Linked DNA regions of Homo sapiens: regions 2, 3 and 4 are each reported to be linked to region 1. The links are microRNA targets in miRTarBase. Many come from high-throughput screens and were not tested one by one. Region 1 holds a microRNA gene; each other region holds the end of a gene's coding sequence.

The links. The annotated mature microRNA hsa-miR-4668-3p reads GAAAAUCCUUUUUGUUUUUCCAG and lies in region 1 at 1,241-1,263, shown strand. An mRNA with a match to its seed (bases 2 to 7 or 8) in the 3' UTR can be bound and repressed. Matches are read on the target gene's strand: a 7mer-m8 pairs with bases 2 to 8, a 7mer-A1 pairs with bases 2 to 7 and ends in A, and an 8mer does both.
Region 2: the mRNA of LRPAP1 is a reported target of hsa-miR-4668-3p. Seed matches in the 3' UTR shown: 7mer-A1 at 2,082-2,088.
Region 3: miRTarBase lists ST6GALNAC3 as a target of hsa-miR-4668-3p. The part of its 3' UTR that is shown has no 7-base or 8-base seed match.
Region 4: miRTarBase lists ZDHHC6 as a target of hsa-miR-4668-3p. Seed matches in the 3' UTR shown: 7mer-m8 at 731-737.

The regions. Positions count from the first base shown.
Region 1 is chr9:111,930,907-111,934,038 of GRCh38, forward strand. It overlaps MIR4668 (microRNA 4668), which reads left to right and starts at 1,194; the gene lies at 1,194-1,263. UGCG (UDP-glucose ceramide glucosyltransferase) reads left to right here. Exons shown (of 9, transcript NM_003358.3): 7 at 365-451; 8 at 1,264-1,453; 9 at 1,921-3,132. The coding sequence ends at 2,091.
Region 2 is chr4:3,510,294-3,513,425 of GRCh38, reverse strand. It overlaps LRPAP1 (LDL receptor related protein associated protein 1), which reads left to right. Exons shown (of 8, transcript NM_002337.4): 8 at 390-3,132. The coding sequence ends at 452. Among named protein-coding and RNA genes, the nearest start is that of LRPAP1, 21 kb to the left of the region's middle.
Region 3 is chr1:76,628,315-76,631,314 of GRCh38, reverse strand. It overlaps ST6GALNAC3 (ST6 N-acetylgalactosaminide alpha-2,6-sialyltransferase 3), which reads right to left. Exons shown (of 5, transcript NM_152996.4): 5 at 1-2,695. The coding sequence ends at 2,509. Among named protein-coding and RNA genes, the nearest start is that of LINC02567, 150 kb to the left of the region's middle.
Region 4 is chr10:112,428,133-112,431,264 of GRCh38, reverse strand. ZDHHC6 (zDHHC palmitoyltransferase 6) reads left to right here. Exons shown (of 11, transcript NM_022494.3): 11 at 358-965. The coding sequence ends at 461. It overlaps ACSL5 (acyl-CoA synthetase long chain family member 5), which reads right to left. Exons shown (of 21, transcript NM_203379.2): 21 at 2,889-3,132. Among named protein-coding and RNA genes, the nearest start is that of ZDHHC6, 17 kb to the left of the region's middle.

The DNA of each region.
Region 1 (3,132 bases):
GATCCATAATGCCACTTTCTGTTTACATGTCTTGTTGTTTGGTTAGTAGTCATCAGAGACTAATCTATTAAATATGGAGCCCTCTCCATTTTTTTTCAAAATGACTGCATTTTAAGTTTCTTAAATTGTAAAGTAAGGTGGGTACAGTTTCTTCTAGTTCTTAGATGGTGCTGTCACGGGCCAGCATAATTGCTAAAACATCCATACGTATGGTAGACCTTAAGTCATGTGCTAATCATGAAAGCTGGGCTCACCCTGAATACCGGCAGTTGCCTGGTCTTTATAATGATTACTGAATGCATAACCAGTTACGCTTGCATGTGTTCATCATCATAACTTATTTTCTAATTATCTTAATTTTCAGAGGTTGGAGGTTTGCAATGTCCACTCAAGTTGCAATGCAAAACTCTGGCTCATATTCAATTTCTCAGTTTCAATCCAGAATGATCAGGTAAATCAACTGTTTTCTTTTTATACTTCGTTAAAAGGAAAGTGGGGAGGGGGGTGGTAATTTTTACAGGTTTAATGTAGTTAAATGAATGTACCTAAAGGTTGAAGATTTTTGTTTAGTTGCAGAAAATAGAGTTTAACGTCTGTGTTTAAGATAAATTTAATGTCTAAATGTATTTTATTTGCTGTATAACACTGAAAGCACTCATTAGAGAAATGTTGAGACTGAATTTTTTAATATGCTGATCTTTATTTTCTAACTTTCTGTGCTGATTAAATTTTATTATCTGTATTCATCAGAGCGTAGGCCATACAAATGAATTTAAAGACATTTTTCTTTGACATCCTAGACAAAAATAGAAAAGAGAGTCATTAAAAAAAATTTTTAGGTTGTGTGTGGTGGCTCACACCTGTAATCCCAGCGCTTTGGGAGGCCAAGGCGAGAGGACTGCTTGAGCCCAGGAGTTTGAGACCAGCCTGGGCAAAATGGTGAAACCCTGTCTCTACAAAAAATGCAAAAATTAGCCAGGTGTGGTGGCGTGTACACCTGTGGTCCCAGCTACTTGGTGGGATGAGGTGGGAAGATCGCTTGAGCCTGGGAGATTGAAGCTACAGTGAGTGCCACTGCACTCCAGCCTGGGTGACAGAGCAGAACCCCGTCTCAAGTAAAAAAAAAAAAACAAAACAAAAAAAGTTTAAAGAGAATGGTCTTTCTATCACAGGGTAAAAAAATTGATTATTTGAGGGAAAAAAAAAAGGATTTGTCTTGTAGCCAGGATATTGTTTTAAAGAAAATCCTTTTTGTTTTTCCAGGTGGACCAAACTACGAATTAACATGCTTCCTGCTACAATAATTTGTGAGCCAATTTCAGAATGCTTTGTTGCCAGTTTAATTATTGGATGGGCAGCCCACCATGTGTTCAGATGGGATATTATGGTATTTTTCATGTGTCATTGCCTGGCATGGTTTATATTTGACTACATTCAACTCAGGGGTGTCCAGGTATGTGGATAGGCATGAAAAGGTTGGCAGTCCCTTGGTGGAACTAGAACTATTTCAATTTAGAAAAAGTTGAAGGAAATGTATCTGAGCCATTCTTCAGCTTCCCATTGTAGGTTAGTCTCGGGTTTGAACATGACTTTCTCTAGTGGAATGTTGATGCAAAACTTAAGTCGATTTGCAACTTTCTATTGGTTATATAATCGCTTTTATTAAGTTTCCAAAAACATGAAGTTAATTAAATCAGTGAGTATTGAAACTAATAAGACATTAAGATAGCAGTTATTTTAATGCTTCATTAACAATTAGCATTTTCTTGAACGGTATAACATGGCAGTTAAATTACATAAGGAAGCAGACTTGATTTTACATAGTATACTTAGAAAAGTGAAATCCAAGAATTTAATTTTTTAACCTTGTCTTTAGTTTGACAGTGAGTGAAATTAAAAAATTTTTTTTTCCATTCCTAGGGTGGCACACTGTGTTTTTCAAAACTTGATTATGCAGTCGCCTGGTTCATCCGCGAATCCATGACAATATACATTTTTTTGTCTGCATTATGGGACCCAACTATAAGCTGGAGAACTGGTCGCTACAGATTACGCTGTGGGGGTACAGCAGAGGAAATCCTAGATGTATAACTACAGCTTTGTGACTGTATATAAAGGAAAAAAGAGAAGTATTATAAATTATGTTTATATAAATGCTTTTAAAAATCTACCTTCTGTAGTTTTATCACATGTATGTTTTGGTATCTGTTCTTTAATTTATTTTTGCATGGCACTTGCATCTGTGAAAAAAAAAAAAAACACATCTGTAGTCTTGGCCAAATGATACACTTTATTTTGTGGAAGTAGAGAATCAAGAGAATTGGTTCTAGGAACCTGGGTTCGTTCATCATTGTTGTTTATTTTTTTAAAATAAATAAATAAATATATATATAGATGCTCTGCAACAAACTCTGTGACAGTATCCTTCAGTAGAGAAAGTTTCTTACTTGTGAGTACACTCTTTTAGAACATTTACGGGTGGCAGCAGCTTTGCTTTAGAGTTTAGAAGATAATAGAAGGAATGACTATTCATGTCCAAAGTGAATGGTTTTGTGCAGTGAACAACACATGGCGAGGTACTAACTGAGAAACTTTTTCATGCTTTATGCCTACCTCTTGTAGTTGTTGCAGAGCAAATATAAATTGTAATAAGATAGCTAGGCCTTGCAGAAACAAACAGAAAAACTTAAAAAAAAATGATATAAGAGCTGGAGTCTAGTATTTATATGAATCTGTGAGAGATAATTTTTTTGGTCTCACTGCAATGAACCAAAAGCGGCTGAGTTTGGTTTTTAATTGTAGCCATGTATTGAAGGCATCTTTTTGACCAACTCTTGTTGGTTCTGTCTTGAACCATTGTTAATCACTGTGCTGTAATTAGTATAGCTAAATCTTTTCCTTCCTTGCTCCTCCCCCAGCCCACCCCGTCTTCCCTTAACATTTTTTCAGGGGGGGTTGGGAGTGGTTTCATTTTAGTGTGAGTGGATGTTTTGATAGTTGTAAGGAAAAAATGCATTTCAGACACATTTCACACATGAGCTATTTTCTTACACAGTATGTCTTATTGTTAATAAGAATGTAATTTCATGATACAAGTATTTAATACCTTTTTTAAGTCAGTAAATATTCTAG
Region 2 (3,132 bases), not on the chromosome of region 1:
TGAGGTGGGAGGATCACTTGAGCCTGGGAGGCAGAGGTTGCAGTGAGCTGAGATCATGCCACTGCACTCCAGCCTGGGTGACAGAGCGAGACCCTTTCAGTAAGTAAATAAATAACACCATGGGCCTATCACAGAGACCCTGAGCTTTCCACTTCAGCATGAACTGCTCCTGGCTGGTGGCTCTTAGCGTTCTTTGGTGGGATTTTCTAGTTAGTACTGAGCTGCTTTTGTGATTTGAGCATTTCTGGATGGGTGTGGAATTGGAAAGTCAGATGTGCAGGGCTTGCGCCTTTTCCTTTTGGATCGCGCGTCTCCTGACATGAGGCTGAGCTCACAGAGCTGGCCTCGAGGCGCGCTGTCCCCAGCTGATGAGACGTTTCTGTCCACAGGTGAAGAAGCATCTGCAGGACCTGTCCGGCAGGATCTCCAGAGCTCGGCACAACGAACTCTGAAGGCATTGGGGAGCCCAGCCCGGCAGGGAAGAGGCCAGCGTGAAGGACCTGGGCTCTTGGCCGTGGCATTTCCGTGGACAGCCCGCCGTCAGGGTGGCTGGGGCTGGCACGGGTGTCGAGGCAGGAAGGATTGTTTCTGGTGACTGCAGCCGCTGCCGTCGCGACACAGGGCTTGGTGGTGGTAGCATTTGGGTCTGAGATCGGCCCAGCTCTGACTGAAGGGGCTTGGCTTCCACTCAGCATCAGCGTGGCAGTCACCACCCCAGTGAGGACCTCGATGTCCAGCTGCTGTCAGGTCTGATAGTCCTCTGCTAAAACAACACGATTTACATAAAAAATCTTACACATCTGCCACCGGAAATACCATGCACAGAGTCCTTAAAAAATAGAGTGCAGTATTTAAACCACCCGCTTGTTGGCTGGTCACTAAGTGTCCTGGTGGCTGGGGCCGGAGCCAGTGCTCTTGAAGGGATCGCGTCATAGCCAGCTTCCCCTCTGGGCCCTGTGGGTCTTTGCAGCCAACCTCCTTTTCCCGTGAGACGGCCCGGCCTGATTTAAAGCCAAGAGCGCTTGAGTTGAGTTTGAGGGGAAGATGTGGAGCGTGTGGTTCTGTGGACAGTCAGAGACTGTGGCCTGGGGGCAGCGTCTTTCAACTCTCACCTCTGCAGCTCAGGGACCTCGGGAGACCTCACCAAACCTGCAGGGCCTCCGTGTCCCTAAGTGTGCTGTGTAAATGCCCCATCTCATGGGGGAGAGACAGCCACGGAGGCCTTCCTCTGACCATAGCTGATGGACTGGCGGTTGCTCAGGTCCGGCTCCGAGAATGTTCCTGTGTCTGAGCCTGGAAGAGGCTCGGGTCTGGCTCCAGGCGTGGTTCCCTTCCCGTGTCTGAGCCTGGAAGAGGCTCGGGTCCGGCTCCGAGCGTGGTTCCCTTCCCGTGTCTGAGCCTGGAAGAGGCTCGGGTCCGGCTCCGAGCGTGGTTCCCTTCCCGTGTCTGAGCCTGGAAGAGGCTCGGGTCCGGCTCCGAGCGTGGTTCCCTTCCCGTGTCTGAGCCTGGAAGAGGCTCGGGTCCGGCTCCGAGCGTGGTTCCCTTCCCGTGTCTGAGCCTGGAAGAGGCTCGGGTCCGGCTCTGGGCGTGGTTCCCTTCCCGTGTCTGAGCCTGGAAGAGGCTCGGGTCCGGCTCTGGGCGTGGTTCCCGTGTCTGAGCCTGGAAGAGGCTCGGGTCCGGGTCCAGCTCCGAGCGTGGTTCCCGTGTTTGAACCTGGAAGAGGCTCCACCAGGCGTATTGTGTTTTGACTGCAGCTGGATCTTGGCTTGACTGTTGAGATCTGCCAAACATCCGCTAAGCTATCATTTCTGAGAAAGGTCAAGGCTAGAGGCAGCATGTCGGGAGTTGGCGCATCAGGGTTGGAAGGGCCCCAGGGTACAGCATGTGGGTGCCTGTTCCTTTGTGGACTTGTGTGTGTGTGGCTGGTGGGGCGGGGGGTGGATTCTGGTTCTTTTTTTTCCCATTATCCTGAGAGCCTTAAGGTACTCAGTGTGTTGGTGAGACTCAGCCCTGTCATCTAGCAGAAGTGTGTTCCTTTTCATTGCTGTATAGTATTCCATTGCATGACTGTCCTGTGCTCTGATTTTAATGCACTTTATTGTGGGTGGATATTTGAGTTGCTTCCTTTCTGGGGTAATAACACTCACTTGGAAATAGCTGTGGTGAACACTCGTGTGGGGGTGGGGGTGGGGGCCAACTCTAGGAGCACCTAATGGATCTTACGAAGCGTGTTGTCCAAGTATAGAGATGATTCCAAAGTGGTTGGACTGTGTTTCTTTCTCCCAGCTGGGTGGAAGGAGAACACTAGTGGATTGCTGAGACTTGGTGCTCGGTATTTTTAATTATGGACAGCCTGGCTGGCGTTTTGTGGTGTCTAATTGCGGAGTAGCGTGTCTTACTGTATAATGGCCTCTTTTGTATGTGGGAGACCATGGTGTTGAGGGGAGGCAGTTACACAAAAAACCCAGATACCGAGTGTTAGTTCCATGGGTGTGGCTGGTCATGGTGCGCACTCACGAAGGATGTAGGTGATGCCCTCCACTCCGCAGAGCCAGTCCCACAGGGGTACCCATTCTGACTCCTACCACCGCAGCTCCCTACCTCCCGCCTGCCATGGGTTCCACGTGCATGGCTCTGGGCAGTCTGTGTCTTTGCGTGCGTCTGTGTATGTCTGCGTGTATCTGCTTACATTCGCTCAGCATCTGAGATTCACCCAGGCTTTTGCGTGGATCAGCGGCAGACTCCTGATTGCCGCGTGGCGGCCTGTTGTGTGGGTGTGTGCCGCGTGTGTATCCAGTCCCTACTCAGGAGTGTACGTTTCCAGTGTGGGTTGCAGTCAGGATCCATTTCTCCCTTAACTTTCAGATTATTTGCTGCATAGGCTTTTTTCTCCTAATTTGGCGCCTTTGTCAGAAATCAACTGACCTACCTGTGTGGGTCTGTTTCTGTTTGTCCTTACGCTCTTGCCATTGCCACACTTTAGACAAGGTCTTGCTCTGTCCCTCAGGCTGGAGTGCAGTAGCGTGATCTCAGCTCACTGCACCCTTGACCTCCCATACTCCAGCAATCCCCTCGCCTCAGTCTCCTGAGTAGTAGCTGCGACCACAGGCGTGTGTCACCACACCCGGCTGA
Region 3 (3,000 bases), not on the chromosome of region 1:
TTTTTTTTTTTTGTTTCCTGTTTGTAGAAAGAAAAAGACAAAGAAAACAACAATAAAAAGTGTAGAGTAGCAGTTTAGTTGCAAAAAGAAAGGAAAGAAAGAGGAGACGAGAGGAGAGGAGAGGAAAGAAAGCCCTTTCCCACCCCTCCTAAGAAAACACTGGAGTCTACATATTCCACACACACCTTCTGCTATAGAGTGAGGGATACAATATACTGCAGAAGTCTTCATCAGAGAAAGCTACAACGAGGCAGGAGAGCAAGCAAGTTTTCAAATGTTTCTCATCAGTAGGGGCTAGAACAAATAAGAGTTGGCCCTTCATTTATTAGAAAACTAAATAAATTAAGTTCATGTCCCAAGCCATTCTGATTAATCAAGGATTTCTTTTTATTTTAAAGTGAAACAACAGGGGGAAAAACAGTCTGTATGGCAATTTTAACATTTGTCTCTGTTTATTTTTCTTTGAGTGGGCATTTCTATCTATCATTAGCTCAAAAAAACTTAACATTCATAGAATTAAAAATTGCATAAGGGAACAACAAAAGAATAACAACTCCTTCCAACGATAGAACTGGGGCTTAGTAATGTTTATGGGTGTGAATATTGAGGTGTCAAAATTGCAGAAGAGAGTAGGCAAAAGGCCTTTATCCAAGATGGCACACTTTAATGATAGCTCACCATAATACTTAGCACTAGTAAAGACCTACAAGTGCTTCTGAAGTGAAATGTATCATTACTTCCAGTTTCCAAAACATTCTATAAGTTGAGCCTGGCTTTTGTCTTTTGAATCATTCTGCAAGGATGTTTTTGAATTCTCAGCTACTCTTGCAGCAAATCAACCCTTTACTATTTAATGAGCAACGAGTATATGAAAAATAGAATTGTCTCAATCCTAGGAAAGGAAACTATATTTCTCTGCCTTCATTTCCTCCTGTTGTCCCTGCTTTTTCATTTTTTCCCCACCTAAATAGAACCACACGTGTATATATACGTATATAGAAAAACTTCTCAAAACTACTTATTTTCACAGGGGCCCTAGCATATGGCCAAGACCATCCTTTGTGATACTTTTTGTGTAATCCTGATATAATGTATTTGGCACAGAGATCAACTGGTTACTAGTTTACATAAATTCTATTCTATACAAATATTAGCAAGTAGAGCAATCTGGAATATAACAGAACAATGACCAAATTACAGATCATCTGCTAAAGAGAGCAGAATACACAGACAATAGCCCAATGGGGTGTTCAAGGGCATCACATGGTATAACAGATGTTAAAGGACTCTAAATGACAAAGCACTTTGGACATTAAGAACATTATTATTGTTGTTATTGTGGCATAACAACTGATACACTATGGGAAAAATAAATCCCTAGAAGGCAAAAAGCTCTGGTCAGGTTTAATATAAGGAATCATTTCCTCTCCATGTGTAACAGCTGGCACTTGGCAATGAGAATGTAATGTTTGGAGAAACACACCTTGGGCCTATAAAATAGAAATTTGAATATACAAATATATATTATGAAGTATGATAGGATACAAATTGATGTAAAAATATGCTTTGCTGTCTCTATTTCATGATTTTAAAAATCATATAGTTTTGTGTTGTTGGATGTTGAAGCAGAGTTAGCAAACCCTTTGGTTACTTTTTAGGAATGTTTTCACAGTATATGTTATTACAGTGTTGAAGTTGGTATCTTACATGTTAAGTAGCCTTCTGAAATATTTAGCACTCAACCAAAAATAACTAAACATTAATATAGATCATTCTAATCACATGTTCAGTTATACTGTTGGTAGTAAGAATGGATGGTAAGAGTGGAAATTCATCAAGATTTGCTACTTGGCCCATTTTGATTTATGTGTTTGAGATAGTCAAGTAATCCTGAAGTGTAGGATGTCCATGAAATCTTCATTGTTAATTAGGCAATGGCCTGAGGCTTTAGCTGTAGGAAATACTGTAGAAAGATGGTATATTAGGAAGAGATATTTTCCCATCCTTAGGCTAAGTAGTAAGATACTTGCACCCTGATAGCAGTTCTTGGGTCAGTGTTTGACAATCAATCATTCTTCAAGATGGCGGAACTGCTGAGATTCAACAAGCCATTGAGTCAATCACCTTGCCTCATGAAGCCAAACTCTTTTGGCTTCTGGAAGTTACTCACTGTTGAACAATTCTAGGCAGCTATCTTGAAAGATAATCTTCCCATTTCTTAGGTCACAGTTGTCATGTCACTGGCCTTCATCTCAATTCCAGTTAAATTATAAAGTGCGGTACGTAGTGTTGAACCTCCAGAAAGAACATCATGAGCACAACCATCCTCCATGAAATGCCAAGTTTAAATTACTAGCAGAGTCACCATCCACATCTGAGAGTGTACAGGAACTTGATAATCATTGTTGTTGTCTTTATCATTACCATCATCTCCATTAGCATCATCAGCATCACAGTTGCAGTATGGGGATCACATTAAGTGATGCGGCAAGATCAGGAAAACCATTATCAAGACAATGTCCAGTTTGGATGTGTAAATATTATCCTGTGCTTCTTGGCCCATTTAGCAAACACTTTCTTTTCAGTGATAAACCTATGACCCCCATATGGGGCATGTTCATGAAGAAAATATTCATCACACTCATCTCTTCCTTGTTCATAATAATGGTAGGGGACTTTTCTATACCCTTCTGTCCTAGAAAAGAAAAAAAAAGAAAAGGAGAGAAAGATTGAGATGAAGAATGAAGCACTCATTTACAAGAATCCATTATGTGCCCAGTAAATGCATTTACTCACAAACCCATACATGATTCTTGTCCATGAACTCAGTTAAAAGCTATTATATGTATGAAAGCTTTTAGGAAGATGTACCAAGTTTTTAGTGGTTTAATAGATCAAATAAAATTTATATATCATGCCAATTACATTCAAACATATGGCTATCTTTTGAAAAGGAAATGGTGTATAATTGAAGAAACTTTAGATAGCCTCTTGCAGAAC
Region 4 (3,132 bases), not on the chromosome of region 1:
GAAGATAGTTCCCTGGAAAAGACAGTGTGATGGTGTGCCAAAAACACCTTTCCTGATCATACACATATAAGTAAACACCCATACCGAGTTCCCCCTGACTCTAGTTAGGAGCTGTCTTTAACCACATTAGTCCCTATTCGGGATCATCAAATTTGGGAAATACCTGTTCCTAGCTTGTTATGAACATTTAAAAATCTTATTTTTTTCCCCTTCAAACTGTGCTTATAATAGATAGCAAAGTGGGGAATAAAAGTCTAACTACAAGCTTATTAATTTGAAGTAATAGGACTTACTGCTTTCAGTAATGTCACTGTCATCCATCAGACTATTTCACCTCAATTTCATTTTCTCCCTCAGGTGTTTCAAGAATAAGGGGTTGGTTCCCTAGAAAATGTGTGGAAAAGTGTCCCTGTGATGCTGAAACAGATCAAGCCCCAGAGGGGGAGAAGAAAAATAGATAGCTGCTGTTAAAACAAAATTATCCTTTAAGTCTGCTTAATTACTTGAAAATTGTACATATTACTAAAGAATTATGCAATGAGCCTACTCTGGTTAAGATGTTCTTTTCCTCAAAGGTGCCCTAGTGCCATGATTTAAATATTTTTATTACCATTTTGAAATGGAGAAGCCATTCTGCATATGCCTTTGAATTCCTGCCCCTCTTTACCACCTCTTCCTCCCCCTCAAAGGAAAAACATTTCATCCAAGTAAGTTAACGGCATTTTCTGTAGGATTTTCTTATGCACTGCACACTCTGGACCTCACCTGCAGATACAGTTCCCCCCTTGCCAGGAGCATCTGCATGTGGTACTTCTCTTTTCCCTCAGTTGATATTTCTTATATGATATTCTAGATACTATAGAACTCAATTTGTCAGATTCAGTATAACCTCAGATTTTGTTACCTGTCTTTTAAAAATGCAGATTTTGTCAAATCAAATAAAGATCAATGGATGTTGGGTATAATCAGTTTTTACTTAAAGCATTTTTCTTTTTGCTGACTAAAAAGGTTCATCTTAGTTCCTTATGGAAAAACTGCTCTGCTGCCCTGTGGACAACTGGCATCTTAAAACGTGGCTTAAGACATGACACACTTGCTTCAAGATATTAACCCTATTAATGGGATATTGCGGTCATAGTGATGGCAGCGGATGGCAGTGGTGGCCTGAGGGGTGTTGAGGGGGAGCCGTGATAGGCAGGAGCCAAGCGTAGCTACAGCTGTCCAGCCGTGGCTGCGGACCCGGGCATCCTTGTGCTCTAGGGGGCCGAGGGGAAATACCCCCCCCACACCCCCCCCCCAACAACTGCTTGGCCTCTTCCTGCTCCTGGCACTCGCTCTGGAGCAAAGGTGAGGCCAAGCCCGGGTGCTGTGAGGACCTGGCCAGGTGTACGTGAGCTCTGAGTGGTGCTGACACCAGCGCCCTGCCGCCTAGGCCCCCTCTGGACTTTGGGCTGCCAGCCACAGAGGATTCCAGCTGGGGAAGCAACACCCCAAGGATCCCGTGGCAGTAGTGTTCTAGACTTTAAACATAGTGATATCAAACTACTCATGTACCCTTGAGTAAAAAGCTGAAGCTTGTGTGAGTGGTAGGATCCAAGCTGGTGGGCTTGGATGCTTAAATTGGGCTTGTCTAAACATAACAGTGGAATCACAGAAGGAAAGAGAAAGCCTATTTCTCTGGACTTCAGAAACCTTTCCAAGGCAGGGAATGTGAAGCTTTGGGGGCCAGGCCTGTAATAGTTGAGGATAAGGGAAGAGCACTTGGGAATTCAGCAGTGAACAGACAGGTAAAATATATGTAAGATGGAGTCATGTTATTGTGAAGCAAGAAGGTAGGACAGTCTTGAGTTGGCATTTGAAGCAGATGAGGGGACAAGTCATGTGCTTTGGGATATTTGCATTTTAGAGACAGCAGCAAGAACAAAAACAGGCTGGACCTGTGTCTGACACGTTTGAGAAACAGGAAGGTAACTAGTGAGGTTCAGCTGTAATGCGTGAGGGGAGAATAGGAAAGGAAGTGAAGGCGAGAAAGTTAAAGTGATAATGGGAGCTAGACTTTAAAAGTTAATTCCTGCCTACCCTTTTGTTTCAGATCCTTAAGAATAGATATTTCTTTGGCTTTTCTGGGCTCAAAATCTAGAAAGACCATCCAAGAACATTCTCTTTAACTCCAGTTGGAGGCCAGAAAAGAATACTATTAATATTCAAGATTATAATTAGAGTACAACAAAGATGGTAAAAGAATGGATATGACTTGTGCTCAGTTGGAGTTTTGGCTCAGCTGGTATTTGTTTTATTCTTTACAGCTATGGGATAAGAAGGTTTGGTCTTCAGAACTTACTTTTCTTCACTAACCTGTTCGCAGACTAGAATCATCTGTGGGTCTTCTTAACAATCTCAGTGCCCAGGCTGTATCCGGCCATTTAAGCCAGAATCCCTGGAGTGGCAACCAGGCATTAGTGGTTTTTTTGTTTTGTTTTTGTTTTTTTTTTTTGAGACAGAGTCTCACACTTTCACCCAGGCTGGAATGCAGTGGTGCGATCTCGGCTCGCTGCAAGCTCCGCCTCTCGGGTTCATGCCATTCTCCTGCCTCAATCTTCTGAGTAGCTGGGACTACAGGTGCCCGCCACCACGCCCAGCTAGTTTTTTGTATTTTTAGTAGAGATGGGGTTTCACCATAGTAGCCAGGATGTTCTCGGTCTCCTGACCTCATGATCCGTCCGCCTCGGCCTCCCAAAGTGCTGGGCATTAGTGTCTTTTTAAACTTCCTAGATAATTCTATTGTGTACCCAAGTTTAAGAACAGATACTGTACTTGATTTTTAAGGGGTCCTTGTTTAAGACTGATTTTCATCATGGTCCATGAGGAAAGAAACACCACAACGTAAGTATCTGTAATAGTTTATTTTAAAGACTTTACATTTACAAGTAGAAACAACATGTGTTATCTGTGGGTAAGGTAGAGCAGGAACTCTAATCCAAGGGTGGGGGAGATCAGTTGGTTCCTTCACAGAAAATAAGCCTGTTGTGTGGGCATCTTGCTTGCCTGTAGATCTTTGTTCCCAGTTCAGGAGGTTTTTATTCAGTGCTTGCTTCATTTACTGGAAAAGTTCACTGGGCCCACCTGTCAACT